Linked DNA regions of Homo sapiens: regions 1, 2, 3 and 5 are each linked to region 4. The links come from fine-mapping of genetic effects on gene expression. A gene starts in region 4. Each other region holds a variant in brackets. All regions are shown on one strand. Distances are from middle to middle.

Region 1 (5,101 bases), 52 kb before region 4:
TGCCATGATCATAGCTCACTGCAGCCTTGAACTCCTGGGCTCAGGTGATCCTCCTGCCTCAGCCTCCCAAGTAGCTGGGACTACAGTTGCACCACCACACCCAGCTAATTTTTTTATTTTTATTTTTATTTTTGTAGAGATAGGGGTCTCATTATGTTGCCCAGTCTGGTCTCCAACTCCTGGCCTCTGGTCTCCAACTCCTGGCCTCAAGCAATCCTCCCACCTTGGCCTCCGAAGTGTTGGAATTACAGGCATGAGCCACTGCTCCTAGCCTGAAAGCTGTTGTTTTTATCCACCAGCTTCTCCCCCTCCCTTGCTACCTACCCACATTTGAGGGTTAGTGCAGGCCTCCTTCCCTTGGGGAAGGTGATCCTGATGAGGCTGCCAATCACAGTTCCCTTTCTTCCCCCTCACTTCAGCCCAAGAGGCAGGCATGAGACCCAAGCCTAGCCAATCAGAGCTCTTTATTGGGAGTTACGTCTTCTAAAGCAAGAAGTCCTCTCCCTCCTTAGGATGGCCAAACTGACATGATATGAGCCTAGAGCTGCCTGTAGCCATGTTGAGCCTAGCCCAGTCACAAATTCTGGGTCACTAAAGGTTAGTGAGAATCCTGATGACAACATATAAATATTTTTATTCTGTCCCTGCCCAACCTGTGGACACATGTCTGAGACCTAAGGAGAGAGATGGCTGTGAGTAAAAAGTGAGATCTCAGTAAAATCTCTACAGACCTCCAGGGCAAGGGCAGTGCATTGGAGAGGAGAGAAGCATCTTGCTACCACTTCAACATAGAGCAGCTCCAGCTTTGGTCCAGTGAGTTCTGCAGGGTGAATAGCTGGAAAGTGGGCCATGGCCCATGGGAGACTTTGGTGCTTGGCAGGGGCACGAGTTCCAGTGGCAACACCATCTCCTGGCAGGAGATGGTGGTATCTTGAAAACCATAGGAAGTACTGGGTGAGAGAGCAAAACAGCACTCAGGGAGAACAGTCTTGTACACACACACACACACACACACATACACGTGAGACTGGTCCCTCTTCTCATGATTCACAAACATACTTCTTATTTTTCTATGGGGGTGGGATGTGTGGGATGGTTGATTAACAGAAGATTGCAGGTATAGGTCTGGCTTCAGCAGATAAGGCAAGAGCCAGTGAAATCTGAGTTTTGGGGTTTTGTATGAGACAGGGTCTCACTCTGTCACCCAGGCTGGAGTGCAGTGGTACACTCACTGCTCACTGCAGTCTTGACCTCTTGGGCTCAAGTCAGTCATCCTCCTGCCTCAGCCTCCTGAGTAGCTGGGATTACAAGTGTGTGCCACCACACCCAGTTAATTTTTAATTTTTTTTGTAGATCTGGGGTTTTGCTCTGTTGCCCAGGCTGATCTTGAACTCCTGTGTTCAAGCAATCTTCCTGCCTCAGCCTCCCAAAGTGCTGAGATTAAGGGCATGAGACATCGTGCCCAGCCATGGAATCTGAGTGTTATTCTTGCTGTGTCCCCTATTGTTCCCATAGGCTGAGGTGGCCTGGGAAACTCAGGTTATATTTGGGTAACCTCAGTAAAGTTGGCCAACTAATGGCCAGTGTTTTGCTTATCTACTGCTGTGTAACAAATTACTCCAAAACATGGAGATTTAAGTAACAGTGAATATTTTTTATCTCTCACAGGTTGGGGATTTGGAAATGACTTAGCTGAGTGGTTCTGACTCAGGGGTCTCATGAAGCCATAGCACAATGTTGGTCAGGGCTGTAGGATCCACTTCTAAGTAGCCTCACTCACATCGCTGGCAAATTATGCTTGCTCAGGGAGTGGGGGTGGGAGCTCAGTTCTTCCCCAAGTGGACTTCTCCATGGGAAGGCTTGAGTATCCTCACAACATGGCAGCTGACTTACCAGAGAGCAAGTGATCCAACTGAGCAAGATGGAAGCCACAGTGAGGGTTATAGCATTGGAAGTTCAACTCTTTCTTTTCTGCAATATCCTATTATTACATAATTCATCCCAACTCAGTGTGGGAGGGGAAGACACAAGAGCATGAACATCAGGAGGCAAGGCTCACTGAGGGCTTTCTCAGAAGCCGGCTGCTACAGCATGGCATCATATTCAAAAGCAGCACCAGTTTGACATCCAAAAGCACTGAAAAGCCATTGAAGTCTCTACCGAAGAAGTATGGGAAGAAGGAAAGACATTGCAGAATGCCCAGTAGAAGTTCAAAAGTTCCTCTTCACTCTTCAATTTTCCCAGTTTTCTCATCACAGCAATTGCTTCCCCAAATCTCTTCTTTCAAACTAACTGAAATTTTCACATCTCTCCTGTTACCCCCTCGCCACCTCCGTTATATAGATCGAATCAACCTCTCCTGACTCTCCACCCTCCCACTTACCCTGAAGCCCCAAGAACCAGGTAGGCAATCACAGGCACTCCTGAGTGAGGCCTAGGAAGTGTAGGAAGAGGGAAGGCAGTGAAGAATGATATACTAACATTTTGTGTCAGTATCACATGTATATCCTAAGTGCCTAGTATGGTGCCTAGAATACAGCAGGTGCTCAATACATGTTGGTGAATTAATGGATAGAG[A/G]CATTTAACAAATTCTAGATGAAAATGCTGGTATTCAGTGGTAATAATATAGCAACAAGTTTCCATATGAAACACAAAAATGCTATGCTACTATCTTCTTTTAAAATGTCCATGATAGGCTGGGCATGGTGGCTCACGCCTGTAATCCTAGGACTTTGGGAGGCCGAGGCAGGTGGATCATTTGAGGTCAGGAGTTCGAGACTAGCCTGGCCAACATGGTGAAACCCTGTCTTTACTAAAAATAAAATTAAAAAAAAATTAGCCAGGTATGGTGGCACATGCCTGTAGTCCTAGTTACTTGGGAGGCTGAGGCAGGAGAATCGCTTGAACCCGGGAGGCAGAGGTTGCAGTGAGCTGAGATTGCACCACTGCGCTCTAGCCTGGGTGACACAGCAAGACTCCCACCTCCAAAAAAATCAAGAAATAAAAGTCCATGATAAGAATATGTAATGTTGCCATACACACGTGCATGCACACACACACGCACATACACGTGTGTGTGTGCGTGTGTGTGTGTGTGTGTGTGTATAGAGAGAGAGAAAGAGAGAGAGAGAGAGAGAGGGTCTTACTCTGTTGCCCAGGCTGGAGTGCAGTGGTGCAATCATGGCTTATTGAAGCCTTGGCCTCCCAGGCTCAAGTGATCCTCCCACCTCAGCCCCCTGAGAAGCCAGGACTACAGGCGTGTGCCACCATGCTTGGCTAATTTGTAAATTTTTTGTAGGGACAGGGTCTTGCTTGTTGCCCAGGCTGGTCTCAAACACCTGGGTTCAACCAATCCTTCCACCTCGACCTCTCAAAGTGTTGGGATTACAGGCGTAAGTCACCGTGCCTGGACTGTATATTTTGTGTGTGTGTGTGTTCTCTGAACAAGCTTCTTGAAAGCAGGATCTGTGTTTTATTCACCCTTATATCCCCAAAGCCTGGCAATGCCTGACTTGGAGTAGGCAGGAATTTTGTCAGTAATGTACTGAGCATTCACAACATGTGTCAGACACTCTTCCAGGGCTGATACGCATAGTAACTCTTAATTCTCATAATCACCTAATGCGGTTGGTTATATTATCATTTCCATTTTTTAGATTACAAAATGGGGCATGAAGAGGTTGAGTAACTTGCTGGAGGTTATGAAGTAAGAGCTGAGATTTAGACCAGGGCTGTTTTGTTCTAGAGCCCACGACCATCCTCTACCACATCTGCAGTGTTTGTAGAACTGAATTAAAGATGAGTGAGTAGATCTGTCAAACTTGTGCCAGGGAAAGCCCATAAGCTTACACCAGACACAGCTAGAAAGACATTGAGGAAGTCCTGGAAACCACCAGTGTGTTTTTAGGTGACTCATGGAGGCAAGAGAGCAAGTTGCAATGTCTCCGAGGGTAGTTGGTTTAGGAAAGGATGAAATATGTCAGAAAAATCTATGTACATAAATAAAACCAAGCAGCTGTGTTCACATTAAGATCCAAACGGAAACCCAGCTGAAGTAGGAGCCGTTGGATCTGTCCCACCAACCTGTTGTGAGCATGAGCTAGGTAAATATTTGGCTGATACAAGGTCCATCACAGGTTAATAGCTCTGGTCATTACCAAGCCTGGTTATGCTGGAATTGCATGTAGTCTCAACTGGACACTCATGTTTAAGCACAATTTAAAAAATCACCAAGGGAAACCAGGAAGCAACACTTCTATTTGGGAAGTCAACTAATGGAAAGTTTTCTAAAATAAGTAACACAGCTTCAGCTTCAGCAATGGGATTTGTGACATCCCTCCCGTGTCACAGTTAATGTCTACCTTGTTTAATACCACATAATAGTACTTTTAGCCTTCAGAACCTTGAAACTGCATAACTACTGGAACAGTTTAAAAAGAATGAGAACATAATGATTTCATACAGCCCATACGTTTCCCAAATAAGTAAAGGGAAGCTGACTTACGGCAATGAGAGGCGGTGTGGTAACCCGGAGAAACTAGGCTGTCGGTGGGACACATGGGTGTGAATCAGCTCTGCTACTTACATGCTCTGTGTGTCTCCGCAGGACACTTAACCTCTTTGAGCCTTACTTTCGTCATCTGGAAATCAAGAGGGTTGCCCTAGATAATTCTAAGGACCGGCCCAGCTGAAGGTTTGTGAGTGCATGAGAAGCCTGCGGTGGGTAAGGTTATGGTGTCAGCTTCCACGTGGTCTGCGTATACAGTGAAGCCCACGTGCCCTGCTCCATTTGGAGAGGCAGCTTGGCCAAGGTGTAGAATTGGAATCATCTGCATTGGAAGCTGCCTTTTGAAAGTGCTAGCAGTGTGCCCCAAGCGCTTGTTTTCTGATGGAGCTGATCTGCCCTGCCCAAGCACTAACTGGGAAGCTCTTACCCTTATTTTCCCTTTGCCCCAATTCCTTTAACTTTTTTTTTTTCTTTTTTTTGAGATAGAGTCTTGCTCTGTTGCCCAGGCTGGAGTGCAGTGGCATGATCTCGGCTCACTGCAAGCTCCGCCTCCCAGGTTCACACCATTCTCCTGCCTCAGCTTCCTGAGTAGCT
Region 2 (5,101 bases), 40 kb after region 4:
TGGGAAGAGCCCCACTGTGCCCTGTCTACAGGAAGAGGCTGGAGAGCCATTAGGTGGCAAAGGTATGACAGAAGCGGCAAGTGGGCCCTTCCCCAAGTCTAGGGACTGAAGAGTCAATAAGGAGCCACTTGGCTCCTCGGGGAAAGTGACCTCTAAGGAGGCTCTACCAAAGGGAGAAGCTGGACCCTGGGCACTAAGGGCACAGGGTGAGCCCTGGCAGCCAGTCCAGTGCTCTGAGGCCAAGCTTGCTCTCTTGGTTAAGCCCTTTTGATGCCCTCTGCTCTGGCCCTTCCCATCCAGCAGAGGCTTCTGGAGGAAGCATGGCCCCAGGCCCCTCCTTTAGCAGGATGGGAGCAGAAGCTCTCCCCCTCTGCCTTTGACTCCTGACCCCTTTCCACTGCCTTTTCTTCATTCTTCCTATGGCCCTTCATGAAAGAGGCTGTGGATGGTAAGTGAGATTTCTCCCATCACACCCAAAACCCCAACAACCAGCCTTGCCTGGAAAGTGAGTTGGGGCCTGCTCAGAGCACCCCCTTGCAGCTCTGCCCTCCCGCCCCATGCTTCAGGCAGCTTGCTCTCTCCTCATAGGTAAGAGGAAGCCGGTGCTGTCTCTATTTGACTATGAGCAGCTGATGGCCCAGGAGCACAGCCCTCCCAAGCCCTCCTCGGCTGGGGAGATGTCACCACAGCGTTTCTTCTTCAACCCGTCTGCTGTCAGCCAGAGGACCACCTCGCCTGGGGGCCGGCCCTCCGCCCGGAGCCCCCTCAGCCCCACAGAGACCTTCAGCTGGCCCGACGTCCGTGAGCTCTGCTCCAAGTATGCCTCCCGCGATGAGGCACGCCGAGCAGGGGGCGGCCGGCCCCGCGGCCCACCCGTCAACAGGAGCCACTCGGTGCCGGAGAACATGGTAGAGCCACCTCTGTCGGGCAGGGTGGGCCGCTGCCGCAGCCTGAGCACCAAGAGGGGCCGGGGAGGCGGAGAGGCTGCCCAATCCCCTGGGCCTCTGCCCCAGAGCAAGCCGGATGGAGGCGAGACCCTGTATGTCACTGCAGACCTCACCCTGGAGGACAACCGGCGGGTGATTGTCATGGAGAAGGGACCCCTTCCCAGCCCCACTGCAGGGCTGGAGGAGAGCAGTGGCCAGGGACCAAGCTCACCGGTGGCCCTGCTGGGGCAGGTTCAGGACTTCCAGCAGTCTGCAGAGTGCCAGCCGAAGGAAGAGGGTTCCAGGGACCCGGCAGACCCGAGCCAGCAGGGCAGAGTGAGAAACCTTAGAGAGAAGTTCCAGGCCTTGAACTCTGTCGGTTGATGCTGACTCCTGGGGGAGGGAGGAGTCATGTTGGAGGTTGGGGAAGAACCTGGGCATCCTTCCCCTCAAGCCTGGGCTCATGGAGCCCCTGCCCAGGGCCCTCAGGTGGGCGGAAAGTCCATCCCCTCCGCCCTTCAGGAAGGATGCTCCCGTGTGCAGGGGTCTCCTGCCTGTGCCATCCACTGGGGCTCGAGACAATTTCCCACTCACCTGTGAGGCCGGTGTGGCTGCTTCCCTTGTAAATAGTTGTTCTCTGGTAAGAAGCCAAATATTTAAGCTCACTTCTTCCCAGAGAGAGGAAGCTCTGCTCAGGCCTCCAGCGTTGGCTGGCCATGGCCACAGCCAGATGGAGGAGCCCATCCCCAGGAGACTCAGGCAGTGGCCTGGAGAGGCTTTGTTCTGTAACGGTGCCTTTTCTTAGGGTCCAGGCAGGAATGAAGCCAATAATTTATTGCTTTCCATTCTGTGGTATGATGTGCGTGTGCGTGAGTGTGTGGCCCCTGTTTATTCCCCTCCTGTCAAGAATGAAGTGGATTCAGTTCAGGTACTTTTGAGGGTTGTTGTGCTGACCCTGTGGTTGTCGCTGATGTACACACATTTCATTATTTGCCAATGGTGCAATAACCACTGCTGACCAACCCACTATGTGTGAACTCCTTCCTAGGCTTGGCTGGGGTAGGGAAGGTTATTCATGGGCCAGGGATGTCTTAGGGAGATGGAGACATGGAGGTTGTTCCTTCCACACTCAATTGTCACTTGGGCTTATGAAACATAAGGCACCCGGGTACTGGTGGGGGAGGTGGGGCAGGAGGATGTGAGGGCGGGCTTTTTCTTTCTGCTGCCTAGACTCCCATGGGCTTCTCTGTCTAGCAGCAGCCTGCTGTCCTGTCTAGGGTAGGGGGTCCCGCATGCCAGCCTTTTGCTCTTTTCCCCAAGGGCCAGAGTTGGACCAAGAAAAAGGGAGGTGGTGAGGTGGATAGACTGTTTTTCTCATAAGCAGATGCTCCCAGTATCTGGTGCCTTTTGCGTTTCTCTCCGGTCCCCAGGAAACATCCTAGAAGACAAGGATTTTTTTTTTTTTTTTTTTTGAGACAGAGTCTTATTCTGTCACCCAGGCTGGAGTGCAATGGCGTGATCTTGGCTTACTGCAACCTCCGCCTCCCAGGTTCAAGCAATTCTCGTTGTCTCAGCCTCCCAGGTCGCTGGGACTACAGGCATGAGCCACCACACCCAGCTAATTTTTTGTATTTTTAGTAGAGACGGGGTTTCGCCGTGTTGACCAGGCTGGTCTCGAACTTCTGACCTCAGGTGATCCACCCACCTCGGCCTCCCAAAGTGCTGGGATTACAGGGGTGAGCCACTGCATGCGGCTGAAGGTAAGGATT[C/T]TAAACTCGGAGACTAGAAATGTCCTAAAGGTGTCTGCAACATTGGATGAGGAGTACAAGTGCATTTTTCTGGGATGATTCCTCCCTTTTTATCACATTCTCAGAAGTATCTTTGATTCAGAAGAGTTAGGAATGCCTCCCTATTTCAGTTGGGTTTTCTGCCCTTTCTCCACAGAGGTCCAGACTCATTTTGCTTAATTTTTTTTCTAGCTGGGGCCTGGGAGGTAGAGGCTTCAGGGCCTGGGTGGTAGAGCTGCCTGACAAGTGTTCAGCAGGGCTGCTGGGTCAGGGCCCTGTGGGCCTTCTGACCCAACCTGAAGATGGGTCTGCTAAGTCTAACAAGGTCAAGGGAAGATCAGAGGGACCCAGATTCTTTTTTATCCCCCACTTGAAACGGAGTCTTGCTCTGTCGCCCAGGCTGGAGCGCAGTGGTGCAATCTTGGCTCACTGCAACCTCCGCCTCCCTGACCCTCACACTGTCCAGTGCCCTTGTGGTTACTCAGCATCATATCTTGAGACTGGCCTGGCAGGAGCCAGTGACTGTGGAATGACCACAGAAGATTCAGGGCAGCTGCCAGACCAGGGGCTATCTCTGCCCTGCGCTGCTTCTGCTCAAGAGAGGTTGTCACTAGCCTCTGATCTTCCCTTGAAGAACCCGACTGGGGCTCTTCAGAGGGTGGGGCCCAGGAAGTTGTAGTTAACCCCTTCCCCAGGCAGTCCTTACACGGCCATCTAGGTATGCCTGGGAACCTTGCACCAGGTCGGTGGTTCTCACTGGCTGCCCATTGGAATTATCTGGGGAGCCTTCTGGAAACGCAGTGCTTACATTCCATCTCCCTAGACCAACAGAAACTGCCCTCTGGAGGTGAATCCCAGGCTTAGAGATTCTGATGATTCTGCGGTCCAGTGAGTGCTGAGATCTGTCCTGAGCTCTGTGGGGAGGGGCCTGGACTGATCACTGCTTGGAAATGATTTTGCCCTACAGTAGGCCTTCAAGTTGATCAAATGCATGAATGAGCAAGCTTTTCTTGGAGTTTGTGATGAAGCCCAGGAACCGGGTGCTTGCAGTCGTCCCATAAGGCTCCCAGGGACAAGCTAGAGAATCTGGCTGTCCCTCTGTCTCCATGGTGCCAGCCCTCTTAGGCTCAGTTCAAAGGGAGAGGAGGCTAGTTAAATAAGAAACTGAGAGAAACATGGAGCATTATTGATTTATTAGAAAAACTAGTAAATGGGTTTCCTCTGGTTGGTGGAAGCACGGTTGAGCAGGTGGAGGACAGGACCCAGCTGGCCCCAGGGCCAGCCCCAGATTGCATGGTCTGTGCCCAACAGGGTTGCATTCCTCTGCAGCCGCCGCCTCCTCATTTCCTCCCTGAGCTTGTTTGTCCAAGCCACCAAGCCATGTGGTCCCGCTGGCTTCATCCTCCTCTGGATTCCTGCCCCCCTCCCATGAAGGGAGGAAGAGGATTCAGGGTCAGCCTAGGGGACCCTGGCTCCCTCCGATAGGCAGGAAGGAGGAGGGATGCGGAGGAGAGGCTGAGCCTTCCACGGGCCTCCTGTTAGGGGTGTTGGTGGAGGCCAGGTTGGGGAGGGAAGCCTAAGGACCCTCCACACCTCCCACAGCCAGAGTCAGTTGAGGCTGGGACAAAGGGGAAGGAGAGAGGGAAGGAGGACCGCCTGACCTTGCCCAGAAGGAGCTTCCTCTAAACTGCCCTGGGAAGGAAGCCTGGTATGCTGGTGTGGACTGGAGCTGTGTCAACCTCGTTTGGGAATACTGTCAAAAGACTGTAGAGTAGAATAAGGAGAGAAAAAAAAAAAAAGACCTTGCTAGGGCACTGGGAGAGCTTAGCCCTGGTGTGGCACACACAGGGTCTCCCAAAGCTGGATGCCTGCATTTTCAGTCTAGTTGGTCGAATGTCTTGGAGCCTGGGTGACAGGAGGGATGTGTGGGGAGCTGGCAACAGAATGGTCACATGCAGCTGGCTGCCCTGGACCAGGCCAGGGGACCTGGGGTGGTGAGATGCTAGCTCTTCCACTAGAGCCCTTCCTTTCTCGGGTCTGTGGAGTTGCTTGCTGGAAATGCCTCACTTCAGGTGCTGATTTGGCACACGTGGAAGGGGGAGGGTGGGCCCTTGTCCCTAGGCTCCCTAAAGACTGGCCCAGGGAAACAGTTGAGGGAGATGTTTGCCACCATCTGCCCTTCAGCAAGGAACCTGCTCTCTGCCCCAGAGGAGGACATGCCTGCAAGTGCACCAAAGGCCTACTTTATTGCTAGGTGAGTGCAGTCACCTCACTGCCTTGGTTTCCCCAGATACAGAAAGAGGCTGGTGAGTGATACACACTAGGTTCCCTGTATAGGGTCATATGTACCAAAGCCAAATGAAGACCTTGCTCACCAGGGCGGGAACC
Region 3 (5,101 bases), 21 kb before region 4:
TCGAGGCTTCAGTGAGCCGTGATCTCGCCACTGCACTCCAGCCTGGACAACAGAGTAAGACTCTCAAAATAAATAAATAAATAAAAATAAAGAATAAATTACCAAATGTGGCTAGTGGCTGCCGTATTAGACAGCACAGGTCTGGAAGGCGGGGGAGGCTCAAATGGACACGCCCTGTTGGCTCTGCTGACTTCATCCCAAGAGGAAGAGGGAGGCTGGGGGAGGACCAGAGTGGGGCTCCCAGGGCCTAAGGAAGATACTAGAGAGGGAAATGAGCCTGTCTCAGAAGGACACTGCCATATAAGGCTTTGTTCCTGGTGGGAGGAGCCCTCCAGATGTCTGAGGAGAGGGAAGCTGAGGGCCGGGGGCAGGGGGAGGGGGAATGATTTAAGGGCACCCCCAAAGAAGTCCTCCTGAGATTTCTTTTGAGACGGCGTCTCACTCTGTTGCCCAGGCTGGAGTGCAATGGCACGACCTCCTGAGATTTTTACAGGGACCCGTTTCACATAAGAGGTCTGCTTTGGTAGTTCAGGCCTGCAAGGACTGTGGGTCTTGGCAGAGAGAGGAGGCACTGTTATTTTTTCTTCTGAGGCCATGTGAACGGGGCAGGCCGTGTGCATAGTTTCCATGGCATAATCTGACTATAAAGCCCTGTGTGTCTGTGGGGGAGGGACAAGGAGAGGCCCTCGGCCCAGCCTCAGTCAGAGCTGGGCATGGGCCCAGGAGGCACATTCCCTCCCAATTCCTGCAAGGTCCCGAGCCGTGGGCAGGGCAGGGCTGGCCGGAGCTCTGGAAGCTCATTTGGTTGCTGACTGGGGTGAGGGTGTTAGCTCTTCCAGATGCCAGGACATGAGACAAAGGAAAGGTAATCTCCCAAGAACTGGGCCAGGCTGAGGCTCAGGCAGAACACAGGATGTGAATTCACTGGGAGGCACAGCAAAGGCAGGCGAAGGAAGGCCTCCTTGTCTGCACCTGGCTACTGCCTCCTACCTGCAAAACAGAAGCTACTGCCAGGCTGGCCGGGGCCCAGCCCTGAGGAGGAAACTGAACAGGATCATTCGCCTAGAGTGATTGTCAGCGGGTTCACCAGACACCTTTCTCTGCTGGAGAAAGGATGCCTCTAAAGAAAAGAGGCCACTCTGTTAGCCTCTCCAAAACTGCGGCTTCCTGGACAGAAGTCAGGGATGCAGAGCACAGGCTAGTATTTATTAGGCAGCTACTAGGTACCAGGCTCTGTGCTAAACATTTTGCTTTTCTAATTTATTTGGAACAATATAGATTAATAATCATTATGACAGCTAATATTTCTTGAGTGTCTACCAGGGATCTGACATCAATTCCTTTAATCCTCCCAAACCTCCCTATCTATGGGTTGAGGGAAACTATGCCTTATCTGCAATTTTGCTATAAATCACCCAGCCAGCGAATGCCCCAGTGGGGATTTGAACTACACACCATCTCCTCATAACCACTGATTTTCCTGACAAATCCTGGCTGTAGATTCTGTGACGCCCTATGCCAGGGTCTTTGAAAAAGTTCCTACCGCTCCGAATTACCCATTTTGTCCCAAAGCCCCCACCTCGGCCTGCTTCCCGTTTCTGCCCTGGCTCCTTGGGGCCTCTAAGACTGGAGTCTCAAAGCGGCTCTGTCCCTAGAGGGTGGTTGTCCCTTCGCCCGCTCTGGGTTTGTTATGACGTACTGGTCGGCAGCCCCAGGCCGCAGAGGTTGCCCAAGACAATCATGCTTTTCTGAGAGGCAGGCTGTGCTGCGAGTCTCAGGCCGCAGCCGCACACACAATGCCCTCTGTCTCCGCTGGGGCAGAAAGGCGCATTATTGCGGGTCAGGTGACTCTGGCTCCACTGGCCGTGATGTTTGTGCTCCACATCTCCCACGAGGCACCTCCCCACGATGGCAAGCATGGCCAGGGGCTGGGCAGGGAGGGGGCACAGGGGCACTCAGGGCCTGGGTGTCCCTTCCCCTGGAGGTCCCTGCCTCACTTCCCCTATCAGACCTGTCCCTCACCCTCCATCCCCACCTGTAGGTCCTTCCCCTGGGTCCCAGGTCTCCCTCTCCTAAGCCTTTTGAGTGCTAGAATTTATTTATTTACTTGTGACAAGGTCTCACTCTATCGCCCAGGCTGGAGGGCAGTGGCATGATCTCAGCTCACTGCAACCTCTGTCTCCTGGGTTCAAGCGATTCTCGTGCTCAGCCTCCCCAGTAGCTGGGACTACAGGCATGTGCCACCACGCTCAGCTAATTTTTGTATTTTTAGTAGAGACAGGGTTTCACCATGTTGGCCACGCTGGTCTCAAAGTCCTGACCTCAAGTGATCCGCCTGCTTTGGCCTCCCAAAGTGCTGGGATTACAGGTGTGA[A/G]CCACTGCGCCCGGCCTAGAATTTAAATTCCTCTGGGAAAGCACACAGCACCGTGCCTGGCACAGTATGCCCTCCACAACATGGCTTTCTCTTCTGTTTTCCTCTTCCAGTTTCTCATGTTTGGACTTTGTGCAGGTTGGAGATAATTTTGTCATCAGGAATTTTGACAGAGACCCTGAAAACAGCTGTGTTCTTAATAACAATAACAGCCACAGTTTACTAAGCCCTTAGCATGTGGCTGGCAGTGGGCCAAACCCATGGAATCCTCACAACAGGCCTGGGAAGGCGATGCTCTTCCCAGTCCCACTTTAAGAAACAGAGGCTCCTAGCACTTGAGTGACTTGCCCAGGGCGGTGACGCTGGGTGGTGGAGCTGGATTCAGACTCAGTTCCATGCTCCTGACCGGTGTGCTATCGTGCCTGTGTTACTTTCTCAGGGACGTTCTAACAAGCCACCAACATTGGGTGGCTTAGAACATTTACTGTCCCATAGTATGGGAGGCTTGAAGTCTGAGATCAAGGTGTTGGCAGGGTTAGTTCCTTCTGAGGGCTGTGAAGGAGAATCTGACCCAGGCTGCGGGTACACATTCACATGTTTTATTTCACATAGCCACACACATACATGTTTACACACAGTTGTACACATGTGCTTACACAACCACACATACATGCTCTGACCCAGCTTTGGGCGCTTGCTGGCCATCTTTGCTGCTCCGTGGCTTGCAGATGCATCACCCCATATCTGCCCTTATCTTCATAAGGTGTCCTCCCTATGTGTGTGTCTCGAAGTCTAAATTTCCCCCTAAAATTAGGACATCAATCGTACTGGATCAGGGCCCACCCTAACAACCCCATTTTAACTTGATCATCAGCAAAGTCCCTATTTTCAAATAAAGTCACACTCACAGGTACTGGGAGTTAGGACTTCAGTATCTTTTGGGGGGATACAATTCAACCCACAACAGGGCCCTTCCCTGCTTTGTACCTTTGTGGCTTGGGCTTTCTTAGGAGCATTAAAAGGAAGTGGTGCGGCCGGGTGCTGTGGCTCATGCTTGTAATCCCAGCACTTTGGGAGGCTGAGGAAGGCAGATCACAAGGTCGGGAGTTTAAGACCAGCCTAGCCAACATGGTGAAACCCCATCTCCACTAAAAATATAAAAAATTAGCTGGGCGTGGTGGCATGTGCCTCTAATCCCAGCTACTCAGGAGGCGGAGGCAGGAGAATTGCTTGAACCCGAGAGGTGGAGGTTGCAGTGAGCTGAGATCAAGCCACTGTGCTCCAGCCTGGGCAACAGAGCAAGACTCTGTCTCAGAGGGAAAAAAAAAAAAAAAAAGAAGTGATGCTACCCTCAGCTCCAAGGGCAAGATAAGCCCCTTTCCAGGACTCCTTGCACTTGTTCACACAGTATACACACACACACACACACTCACATGCACTCACACACAGAGGTTCAGTAGCCTGGCAAGAACATCAATGCTCAGGATAGATGCTGAACTGCCACATTAACATCTGCATTCCATGGAGACAGTGGAACATCTGGCCAACATGAGGCATGGAGGGTGCCAGGTGCTCCAGCAGGATGAAGAGGAAACTGCCAGCAGTATAGACACTCGCCTTCCCAGCACAGCAGTTTGCACCAGACCACAACAAACCCACTCAAAATATTCTCCACGTCCCCTCCAATCCCCATACCTTCCCTCTATGCCTGCCCACTCCACCATCCCTTCCCTAGGCCTGGGCCCTCCCCACTCTCTGAGGTGGGAGAGGCTGGGGGCTGTGTCTCTGCAGCTCTAGCGTTTGTGTAGGAGTTACTACTTGTGGAGCATGCAGCGCAGAGGGAAACAGCTTGCCAGTGAGACGCAGACACTTCCATCTCCACCTCCAGCTGCACCGAATCAGCTTACATGGTTAATGACTGTTCCTGCTGGGGCTCACCGGACCAGCCCCTACTGTCTGCTGTGGGTGGGTCCAGGAAAGGCCTCCTCCAGGGGTAGCAATGCTGTACCCGAGCTCTGGGCCTGGTGGGTACTTGCCCTGAGGACTTCAGACCCAGGCATGGTGGTGCTCCTCAAGCGACCAGCACCTTGGGCCTTCTCTCCAAGCTCCAGGCCCAGCTGCACTCCAGGCCTGCCCCTGCCTCCTCTCCTCCCCCTGCTCCTGCTCCCACGGCTTTTTGTCTCCTCAGGGGCTCCTCCACCTCTGCAATTGGTTTCTTCCAGGCCAGGCCTCCCAGGCCTCAGGTGCACATCCACACATGCTTTATTTCACATGGTCTCACACATACATGTTCACACGCATTCATACACATGTGCCTTACACAACCACACATGCATGCTCATACACACGCACACACACTTTACACAGTCATACACGGTGTTGACACACTCACATGTGTGCTTTACATAGTCACACATTCACACACATGCTGTATAGTCTTACACGTGCATATTCACACACACGTGTGTTACACAGTCACACACAGTCACATGCTCACACACACTCACACAGGCCTGCATTCTCGCACATGTGCACACATGCACTTAGGTACTTACGTTATTTCTCTAAGTCTGCTTTCTTAGTTGGAACATGAGGATAATTTATTTTCCCATACCCATTTCACAGAGTTGCTAAACTGAAAAAGAGAGTTGAAAGATATCGACTGGCATAAATGAGGCATTTGTTATTATTTATTACAAAATTCAATTTTATTTACATTTAAAAATATGG
Region 4 (5,101 bases):
TGGTAGGAAGAGGCTCCGAGCTGTGGAGGGGCTGCAGCCTGGAGCCCCTGGCCCTTGACACAGGGTTTTATTATCGGAGGAGAGACTGTGCGATTTCTCACAAACTCTTTAGATTGTTTCAGTTGAATTCAGCATTGTTTTACTGAGTGCTTCCTATATGACTTCTACCACAGGGAGATTACAATCTTTTTAGGAAGTAGGTGATATAAATTAAAACAATTATTAATAGAAACAATATATTATAATCAAGTGAATTGGGCATAACAAGTGTCAGAAAGAAACTGGAAGCAGTGATGGTGAAGGGCAGAATTCCCTGTTATGACTTCCAGGTCTACCACCCACTAGCTGTGTGACTTTGCCTCAGTTTCCTTTTCTGTTACTGCAATTGTTTTTGTAAAGTACTTAGAAGAATGGCTAATACATAGTAAGCACACTCATAGTAAGCACACACCCATCTAGGCACTTGCCCGACACTGCTTTTGCTGGTTGTGTAATCTTTGCCAAGTTGCTCCTTGCCCCTAAGCCTCAGTGTTCTGTCTGCAAGATGGGGATTAGGATATCTCCTACCTCGCAAGGTGGCTGTGAGGATCCAGGGACACAGTTTGTTAAGAGTGTAGCACAGGCCCTCTGCATGGTAAGCATTCACTAAAGGACAGTTATGACTGCCACTAACACTGTAACGTGTCCTGGCTAAGGAGTGAAGGGTCGCTCACAAGTGGCTAAGTCAGGGGGCTTCTTTGGAAGCTGGAATTTGAAGCGGACCGGAAGGCATTCGTAAGATTCAGGTGATCAGATAAGAAAGCATAAACAAAAAAAGGTGAAAGCCTGAGGTTGGAAGGGGTGACCACAAGTCCTGGAAGGCCAGAAGGGGGACTTGTCACTTCTCCCCTGGCCGGCGGGGTCTAGCGGAGCCCCAACTAAGTTGATCTATTTCCGAGCCCCTCTTCTGCAATCTCTGCTCTCACCTTCACGGTCCGCGAGTCTGGGGCTCTGCAAGCCTCCAACACACCCTCCCTCCCTAAGGAATGTGGGCCCCGCTTTCTGGGCCTGCCAGACCGAGCGCCTACCGCTTCCTCCGCAGGCAGGAGCCGGGACGCTGCCTTCACCCCACCCTCCGCCAGGATCCAGTTTCAAAGTCACCTGAAAGCCATTTCCTTCCGCGCCTGCCCCGCCTCTCCCCTCCCAGTAGATCACCTGGAGCTTGCATTTGCCCAGAGCAGCATTTTGGGGCGGGCGCTTGTTTTGTTTTAAATGATACCTCTAGAAATCGTTTGCTGTACACCTGGATAACAAATATACCCCGTGGTTCTAATATCAGCGTCCTATTCCTCCTCCCAAGGAACTAGTGATAGCGCCTAACCAGTGGGCGTTGTTCCTCTTCCGGAGCCCCACTCTGGGCTTCCCTCCTCCGGGCTTGTTGTTCTTCAGGATCTTTACTGATGAATTATTATGGGTTTTTGGATTTATGCTCTTGCTCAAAATGTATTGAATGTCTCTGTCCCCCATCCTCACCCCTTGCCCCCCAGTTTCCAGGTGTGTACCTTTCCATGCATACACGGTCATATACAGAGACATAAAGACAAACGGTTCTCTTTGTTTTATAAAAACGGGTCCTCTATCATCCAGGTTTCTGTGTTTTATTTTTCCTATTTAACAGTTCCTTGTGGAGTTGCCTTCACGTTGTCTCCTTTATCTCTTTCCCGTCAGCTTCTCAGAGGTCTGCATTTACCACTGTAAAGCGTCACAGGGACCGAGTTATGGTGAGGAATTCAAGACATGCCTTTCTGACTTGGAAAAGCGGACACGGCCGGCTCTGGTAGGATTAGGATCCCCAGATCGATCCCGGCTGGTCACTCACTTGGGAAAGCCCTCAGCCCCCTTCGCAGGGCCCGGTGTTCCCTGTCCATACAAGGGGTACGTTCTGGCAGTCCATGCTGTCTCGGGAGGCGGTGATAGCAGGTCTGTGACACCAGGGTGACCCCACCACGTGCGTCTTGGTATCCTAGAGCATCTAGGCTGCCCGGGGGTGCGCGCTCATCACCCTGCGGGCGTTAATCGTTAACCGCGCCCAGGCCTCGCCGCCGCCGCAGCCTTACCCCGGCTCTGGCTCGCCGCGCCGCGAAGGTTGCCCCGGCCCCCGCAGAGCCGCCAATTGCTGGACTGCAGCCGCGAGCTGGAGTCTCCACCCACAGGAAAAATTCCTGGCCCGCCCCTCCCTCGCTCCCTCGCTCCCTCGCTCCCTCGCTCCCTCGCTCCCTCGCTCCCTCGCTCCCTCCTGCCCTCCCGCTGCAGCTCCGGCTCCGCTCGACTTCCTGCCGGGCGCTGGCAAGCCGCGCGCTGCCTGGGGTCTCCGGGGGCCGCGCTTGCAGCTGGCCGAGTCCGGGCCAGCTGAGGGGCTGGCGGTGGGCGGGAGCGGTCGGCGGCCTCAGCCCCTTCAGAGAGCGACTTTCAAACTCGCGCCCGCGTCGCGGCAGCACCTGGGCAGCCCCGCACGCCGTGCGCGTCCCGAGCCCGCGGGGCAGCTACCGCTCGGTGAGTGTCCCCTGATTCTCCTCTCTCCCCTCTTATCTCCCTGCATTAGGCTGAGCGGCGGTGCCGGCAGTCACGCTGGGGCCCCAGTCCCTTCGCGGCCCCCGTGCCAGCCCCCTGCGGGGTGAGGACCGGGGCGACCGAGGAGGGCCTGGAACTGTGTTGGCTGCTTCCCGGGCCACCCTGCCGCAGAGTGCGCGAGCGCAGGAGGGTCGTATGGGGAGACTTTTTCTGTCTTTTTTTCCCTCCACTCCGGAAACAAAAGGGGCAAATGCGCCGGGCGGCTCCAGAGAGGCTCAGTTTGAAATCCAGGAAGCCCGCGAGGCCGCGCGCGCCCGAGGGCTGGTGTTTGGCTGGAGCTGTGGGCCTGGCGGGTGGACCCTTCTGCGCGAGGACCCGAGCCTCGGCTCCTGCCAGCCCCGGAGGCGCCTGCAGCCTGTTCCGGGTTGGCGCCGCACGGTGCTCGCTGTTGGGAATCTCGGCTACCTGTCCGGCAGGGAGGAGAGTGGGGGCCAGAAGCGGGGAGCGGAAAGCCCGGCCACCAGCTGCCTCGACCTCGTCCACTCCTGAAGTCGGTTTGGTTCTTCGCACCCCTACACCCAGCCCTTTGGTTTGGAAAGCCAGTATAAGGCGTGCAAGCTTAAATTTTTAAGGCGTTAAATAGCTACTTTGACTCTTCGGGGCGCCTTTGGAACACAAAAGGAAGAACGGAGGGGAGAATGGAATGGTTGGAGGCTGGAGAGGTGTGGCTTTTGGGGAGGGTGTTGTTAGAGGCCGCGAAAGAGTTTGATCCTCGAGGTCACTCGCTAATCTGTTGGCATATGTAGGTGCCTGTCCCCTGCTCTGGGGGCCCCAGCAGGAGACCCACACTGCGTTCACCTTACGGGGAACCCTGGAGTGGGGGTTCCCAGAGTCTCCCCAGCCGTGCCTCTGCACGCAGCCCAGTCACATGGCCCTTGCTCAAGAAATAATAAGCAGGGAGGGCAATGACAGTCCGGAGCGGGGGAGGGCCTCCCCGTTGAGCACATCGGCCACCTCGCCTTCAGCAGTGTGGTTTTCCGGGCCATCCTTTGTTGGACAAGGATGGGATCCTGAGTGATTAAACCCCAGCTGTTCCCCAGGAGGAAACTAGGGAGTGAGAACCAAAAGTGTACATTTATCTCTCTGTTATACATCTCTCCCCTGTGGTTCCGGGCTGGCCCCCTGGATGCAATGGCCTCACTTCTCCTTTCGACACCTGCTGTCCTCCACTCCCTTCCTGGAAGATAGGACAACCCATTAGCTCCCTGGGTAACTTGCCCTGGGGATGGGGCAGGAAGTTGGGGGAAGAGGTACCCAGAGGCCAAGTCCTAGCTGCTGAGGGAGTGATTTGTTGAAGAGCTGCTTTGGGGGCTTTTCTACTGCCTTTTATTAGAAGTGGCATGGCAGGGGAAGTGGAAAGAGCACTGGCCTGATAGTCCAGCACGGGTTTATGCCTGAGTTTTAGACCTGGCTCTTCTGCATAGCATGGAAGATTGGTAGAGTTGAAGAGTGCGAGTCACTTGGGCTGGGGGGCCCCTTGGATTAGCCTACTTCATTTACTCGTGAAGGCAGCAGAGCCCAGAGGGGTGAGGTGATTTCAGCCTTAGACCCTATTGGCCAAGTAGAAACCAGAGGTCAGATGTCCTCATTGTCTGATCTGTGTTTTCTCCAACATGATCTGGCCAATTCACTTATCTTTTCTGACTCAGTTTCCACATAAATAAAGTGGGATTACTTGCCTGCTCTTCCTCATAGGAGCTGTGGTGAGGATCAAAGGAAGCCTCATTTGTGGAAAGTGCTCCATAAACTCCTGTTAAAACTAAAGGGCTCACAGTGGCTCGGGAGGGAGTCTCCCAAGGGTTTTACAATTTGCTGGCTATGTCCCACGTGTGTGCCACAAGGAGACGTTAGATACCAGGAGCCATTGTTGGATGTTTAAAACACCCTGGTCTTAATATCTCAGCCCCAGAGTAAACATTTGCCTTACCAAATCCGCAGCTATCCCACGGTCACTGTTTACGCTGGAAGAGGCCAAAGGCCACGGCCTGCGGGATGACCAGGGCTGGAGGGGGAAGGCTCCTCTGTTGCAGAGGTATGCCTTGCCCGTTCTCTTCTCCCAGCTCCCAGAACCTTGTGAAGGCTCCAGCTGTAAGCCAGGGGTGCTGCCACAAGCCCAGGCCGCCCTGGCCTTGGAGGGTTAAAAGTGAAGCCCTCTGGCTATTCTCTGTTGTGTTGGGGGTTGCAGGGACTCTGGGAGGGTGTTGCTTTTGCAGCTGCACTGAGGGCTGTCTTCAGCTCCTCATCTGTGCCCCCTCCCCCATCTCAGGCCGCCCCTCTGGCCCAGGCCACTGCTCTGTCCCGCCTCTCTGGCCAGCTGCAAGTCCACAGGCCTTTGTTCCGTGGCTGCAAACCCGCCCTACTCCATCCTCCCTCCTCAGCAGAAGCCCTCCAGCGGGGGCCCTGGCAGCTGGAAATCACAACTGCCAGGAGGAAGGGGCTACTGGAGCCCCCAGCGGACCTGGCAGATCCTCATTTCCTCTTGTCAAGCTCA
Region 5 (5,101 bases), 28 kb after region 4:
ACCACCATCTTTACTGTCAAATGAGAATCTCCCTGAAATCACTATTTTTGATCTCTTCTTAGAGCCAAGAGTTTGATATCTACACTCAGTATTGCAACAATTACCCCAAGTGAGTAATTGGGGTGAGAGGGAAGGCAGAGCCATTTGGTGAGTCCAGAGCCCCCCACTTCCTCATCCAGGCCTTCCCCAGGTGGTGACTGGCCCTTCTCCCACTCCCAGCTCCGTGGCCGCCCTGACGGAATGCATGCGGGACAAGCAGCAGGCCAAGTTCTTTCGGGACCGGCAGGAGCTGCTACAGCACTCGCTGCCCTTGGGCTCCTACCTGCTGAAGCCAGTCCAGCGCATCCTCAAGTACCACCTGCTGCTCCAGGTAGCCCCTCGGTCCTCCCAAGCACCTAGGGCCTGGGGAGGGCAGGGCCTTCGGGTCAGGGGCACCTAAGCGTCTATCTTCTGCGCAGGAAATTGCCAAGCATTTTGATGAAGAAGAGGATGGCTTTGAGGTGGTGGAGGATGCCATTGACACCATGACCTGTGTGGCCTGGTACATCAACGACATGAAGAGGAGGCATGAGCACGCGGTCCGGCTCCAGGTGCTCTGGGGCTGGGACGCTGGGGGAGGGGCAGGGCTGGGTGGGCCAGGCTTCCGCTGGGAAGAGGGACTGTGGCCACCCTGCTGGGATGAGCTGGGCAGTGGCATTGGGGGAGCCTTTGTGGCAGGGTTTGCAGAGCCTCCTAAGGCCCCAGTGGCCTGACTCTAGGGATTGGGGCCCCTCTGCTGCAGGAGATTCAGTCACTCCTCATCAACTGGAAGGGGCCCGACCTGACCACCTACGGGGAGCTTGTCCTGGAGGGCACATTCCGCGTGCATCGCGTGCGCAATGAAAGGACCTTTTTCCTCTTTGACAAAACACTGCTTATCACCAAGAAGCGGGGCGATCACTTTGTCTACAAGGGCAACATCCCGGTAACCAGGCCCTGCCCCATCTCCTCTGCCATCTTCTCTCCTTCCCAAAGGATCTGGGCTCCCCTTCTTGTCTGCTTCTTGGGGCTCCAGCACCACCCTTCTGAGATCACCCTCCCTGCTTCCCCAGGCTGTCAACCTTGTGCTTGACTGTCCTTTCCCTCTGCCCCTAGTGCTCCTCCCTGATGCTGATCGAAAGCACCAGAGACTCCCTGTGCTTCACTGTCACCCACTACAAGCACAGCAAGCAGCAGTACAGCATCCAGGTGAGGGGAAGGTGGGGCTCAGGGGCTAGGGAACAAGATGCCCAGGGGACACCTGCGTGGGACTCCTGGCTCCTCTGCTCACCTAGCTGCCCCAAGCCCCAGTGTCTCCATCTGTGAGGCAAGGATCATTGCAGGCACCTCTCAGGGTCAAAGTGAGGAGTCAGGTTAACCTCACAGAGGCCCCAGCATGGCCCCACTTTTTCTCCCTGGGTGGAAGCACTGTCCATGCTAGACAGCTTCAGGCCTGTAATGATAACCACTGGGTCCCTTTCCCTTGGGTCCTCCCAGGCCAAGACAGTGGAGGAGAAACGGAACTGGACTCACCACATCAAGAGGCTCATCCTAGAGAACCACCATGCCACCATTCCCCAGAAGGTGAGTTCCCCCAGCTCCTGACTGTGTGCAAGGAGAATGTGCTCCTCTGAGCCAGCTCTGCAAGGTCCATTGGGGGCTCACCTTCTGGATTTGGGCTCCAGTGGACAGTGAGTGTCAGTACAGCAGATGCCCCGGGCCTTGGTGCAGCACTGTGGGGTGTCCTCGTACAGCAACAGTGGGTCCTATGGGCAGGGAAGGCCGGCACATGGTAAGGTAATAACCAGGTGTGTTTCCTTCCCCTTCAGGCCAAGGAAGCCATCTTGGAAATGGATTCCTATTGTAAGTGTACCCTTTTCTGCCTGTTTTGTCCCTAATCGTGCACATTGCTAGGTCAGGCTGCATCCTGGGGAAGCTTTACCTGATAATTTTATTCCAGGAGCAGGGAGGGCGGGGGTCTCCTGTTAAGGGCTGGGGGGTGAACTACATGATTAAGGATGCTCTCCTGCTGAGCGGTGGGACTCTCAGTGCCTGAAGCTCCCAGCTGGAAGATGGAGGGAGCTCTGGAGGCTCCTGGCCCTGGAGCTGGGTGGGTATAGAGGTCTGGCTGGTTATGGACAGGGTCTAGGGTAGGCCAAGGCCAATTGGGAATCAAAAGCTTGATCGTCTCTCTCCTGGGTGCAGATCCCAATCGGTACCGCTGCAGCCCAGAGCGGCTGAAGAAGGCTTGGTCCTCCCAGGATGAGGTGTCCACCAATGTGCGCCAGGGGCGCCGGCAATCTGGTAAGAGAAGGGCTGTGGAGGCAGGAGGCCTCTCCCTCACACCCTTGCCCAGACTGGGGACCGTCTGC[G/A]GCAGTGTCCAGGGCTGTGGCTCTCACCTCTGCGGAAACCCTGGGAAAGGCTAGAGCGGGGCTGGACACACACCTGGGGCTCATCCTCTCCCTGTGCTGGTGCTCCCCACACCAGGTACCCCTGGGCCCTCGTTGCCTACCAGGTCTGGAGCCCACCTTTTTCTTACTTTTTTCTTTTCTTTTCTTTTCTTTTTCTTTTTTTTTTTTTTTTGAGAGATGGAGTCTTGCTCTGTTGCCCAGGCTGGAGTGCAGTGGCTCGATCTCGGCTCACTGCAACCTCTGCCTCCTGGGTTCAAGCGATTCTCCTGCCTCAGCTTGCCAAGTAGCTGGGACTACAAGCGTGCACCACCACACCCAACTAATTTTTGTATTTTTTAGTAGAGATGGGATTTCACTATATGTTGGCCAGGCTAGTTTCGAACTCCTGGCCTCAGGTGATCCGCCCGTCTCGGACTCCCAAAGTACTGGGATTATAGGTGTGAGCCACTGTACCCGTCCAGCCCACCTTTTTCAAGGCCCTAGGAATACTTGCTCGCTCCGGCCTTGGCACCCCTTCTTAGCCCCCTCCCTCCTTTGCCTCTCTGGAATACCAACACCAAGTCATTCAGGAGTGACACTTGGACATGGCGGATGGGCCCAGCCCAGTCCTGGAACAACCGAGCAGAAGCAGGACCCGGGGAAAACGAGTTCAGTGGCACCAAACCCAGACAGGAAATATTTATTTTGGGTCTCAGGAAAAGGTTCCATTTTCCTCCCTTGAGTTTTCTTCCATTCCTGGACTTGCTAGGGTGTTCTTGGATTATTGGAATGAATCGTCTATTTGAAAAGAGAAAACCTTGCTTTTATTCTAAACTCCGTGGTGATGGGTGTGTGTGTTTTCAAAATTGGTTTTTTCGTTGCTATTTAGTGCAAGGCCCAAGGACAGGTCTGGCTTAAGCCAGGTGTCTGCCAAACATATACCCAAGGTGGGAGTTGGGGTGAGAATTGTCTTTAAGACCCTGGGAGAGAAGGATTCTAAAGTGACTGAGAGTGGTGTCCTGGCTTGGGTCCCACAGATGTGTTGGGTTTTGATTGGTGATGACCTGTGGGTCCCCTGAATGTGTGTGTGGATTGACATGTGGGTGTTAGCCTTCGAGAAGGTGGAGCAGTGGCTTATAGAAGGCTTTTGTGGTTTTATGTTGTTGGTATTGCTCTGGGTGGATCTTGAGCCCTAGGCCACCTTGCTATGGTTGCAAAAGTTTTATGGTTTTTATAGTTAAAAGCTCCAAATAGGGGTGTTGCTTTCTTCTCTCTAGCCCTCTTTCTTTTCTCTTCTCTTCTCTTTTCTTTTCTTCTCCTGTAATTCTCTTCTTGTCCTCCTCAACTTGCCATACCTTAAAATTTGAAGCTTCTAGCACACTGATGTGTTCAGCAAGTGATAACGTTGGTGGTAGTGATAGTAGCTCTATCCTAGTGTTAGCATCGAAACTTTAGCTATGGATGTACAACTCTTTGAATATACTTAAAGCCGTTGAATTGTACACTCTAAATAGGTGAATTGTATTTGAATTATATTTCAATAAAGCTGTTACAAAAAGCCCCCAAACTTTAGGTGTCCAAGGCACTCAGGAAATGAGCCATTTTAAAGAGCTGAAGTTTCCACATGGCTGAGATTTTTAGCCTGTAAATACTAAGAGTTGGATTTTTTCAAAAAATATTTAAAAAATGTTTTAACAGTTATGAAATTCCCTCCCTCCCTCCCTCCCTTCCTTCCTTCCTTCTTTCCTTCCTTCCTTCCTTCCTTGTCTGTCACCCAGGCTGGAGTGCAGTGGCACCATCTCTACTCACTGCAACCTCTGCCTCCCGGGTTCAAGTGATTCTCCTGCCTCAGCCGCCCGAGTAGCTGGGATTACAGGCACGCGTCACCACGCCCAGCTAGTTTTTTTTTTGTATTTTTAGTAGAAACAGGGTTTCACCATGTTGGTCAGGCTGGTCTCGAACTCCTGACCTCAGGTGATCCACCCGCCTCGGCCTCACAGAGTGCTGGGATTACAGGCATGAGCCATCCCGCCTAGCTGAAATAGACATCTTTCTAAAGCATGTTTTGTACTCTTGAGCCTTTTAAAACAGAAGGTGCTGGCCACCGTTGAACCTTTCCTTTTCTGGAGTTAATGCTACAGCATCACTTAGGGTGTGTGAACTGCCAGATGCTTGAGGGGCCCCAGAGGCTGTGGGTTGCCATAGAGACAGCCTGTGTTTGGTGTGTCGTGCCCCTCTTCACGGTTCTTCTGTAACACTGAAGTATTTGTTTTCATTGGTCTAAGTATGCTTGTCTGTAGTAGCCCTTCTTCCCCTCCTGTCTGTTAGAAAGCGATCGTTCAGGCCAGGTGTGGTGGCTCACTCCTGTAATCCTAGCACCTTGGGAGGCTGAGGTGGGAGGATCACTTGAGTCCAGGAGTTCAAGACCAGCCTGGACAACACAGTGAGGCCTCATCTCTACAAAATTAAAAAGTTAGCTAGGCATGGTGGTGTGCACCTATAGTCCTAGCTACTCTGGAGGCTGAGGTGGGAGGATCACTTGAGCCTGGAAGGCAGAGGTTGCAGTGAATGGATATCGTGCCCCTGCACCCACCCAGCCTGGCTGACAGATGAGACCTTGTTGCAAAAAAACAAAACAAAACAAAACAAAAAAAGAAATCAATCTGTTGAACTTGTGGGAACTGTAGACCACA

Which allele goes with the higher level. Alleles are on the strand shown, and positions count from the first base shown. SD is a standard deviation of normalised expression in the study named. Not every link is listed here.
For the expression in prefrontal cortex of the gene that starts at base 2,252 in region 4, T is the high allele of the variant in region 2 and C is the other (small effect, 0.22 SD a copy in BrainSeq).
In carriers of allele A in region 3, the expression in esophagus mucosa of the gene that starts at base 2,252 in region 4 tends to be lower than with G alone (small effect, 0.20 SD a copy in GTEx).

The links. PIP is the estimated chance that this variant, and not a neighbour inherited with it, causes the effect.
Region 1: its variant is fine-mapped to the expression of PLEKHG3 in lung (TOPMed, PIP 0.99).
Region 2: its variant is fine-mapped to the expression of PLEKHG3 in prefrontal cortex (BrainSeq, PIP 0.95).
Region 3: its variant is fine-mapped to the expression of PLEKHG3 in esophagus mucosa (GTEx, PIP 0.95).
Region 5: its variant is fine-mapped to the expression of PLEKHG3 in whole blood (TOPMed, PIP above 0.99).

The regions. Positions count from the first base shown.
Region 1 is chr14:64,650,544-64,655,644 of GRCh38, forward strand. No RefSeq gene overlaps it. Among named protein-coding and RNA genes, the nearest start is that of PLEKHG3, 51 kb to the right of the region's middle. The variant A/G (reference allele first, on the strand shown) is at 2,578.
Region 2 is chr14:64,742,394-64,747,494 of GRCh38, forward strand. It overlaps PLEKHG3 (pleckstrin homology and RhoGEF domain containing G3), which reads left to right. Exons shown (of 17, transcript NM_001308147.2): 16 at 1-62; 17 at 589-5,101. The coding sequence ends at 1,310. SPTB (spectrin beta, erythrocytic) reads right to left here. Exons shown (of 36, transcript NM_001355436.2): 36 at 3,890-5,101. Among named protein-coding and RNA genes, the nearest start is that of PLEKHG3, 41 kb to the left of the region's middle. The variant C/T (reference allele first, on the strand shown) is at 2,696.
Region 3 is chr14:64,681,653-64,686,753 of GRCh38, forward strand. No RefSeq gene overlaps it. Among named protein-coding and RNA genes, the nearest start is that of PLEKHG3, 20 kb to the right of the region's middle. The variant A/G (reference allele first, on the strand shown) is at 2,375.
Region 4 is chr14:64,702,173-64,707,273 of GRCh38, forward strand. PLEKHG3 (pleckstrin homology and RhoGEF domain containing G3) reads left to right here and starts at 2,252. Exons shown (of 17, transcript NM_001308147.2): 1 at 2,252-2,532. RefSeq lists an enhancer at 531-1,032.
Region 5 is chr14:64,730,580-64,735,680 of GRCh38, forward strand. It overlaps PLEKHG3 (pleckstrin homology and RhoGEF domain containing G3), which reads left to right. Exons shown (of 17, transcript NM_001308147.2): 5 at 63-109; 6 at 220-370; 7 at 459-590; 8 at 782-964; 9 at 1,135-1,227; 10 at 1,516-1,602; 11 at 1,848-1,881; 12 at 2,224-2,322. Among named protein-coding and RNA genes, the nearest start is that of PLEKHG3, 29 kb to the left of the region's middle. The variant G/A (reference allele first, on the strand shown) is at 2,391.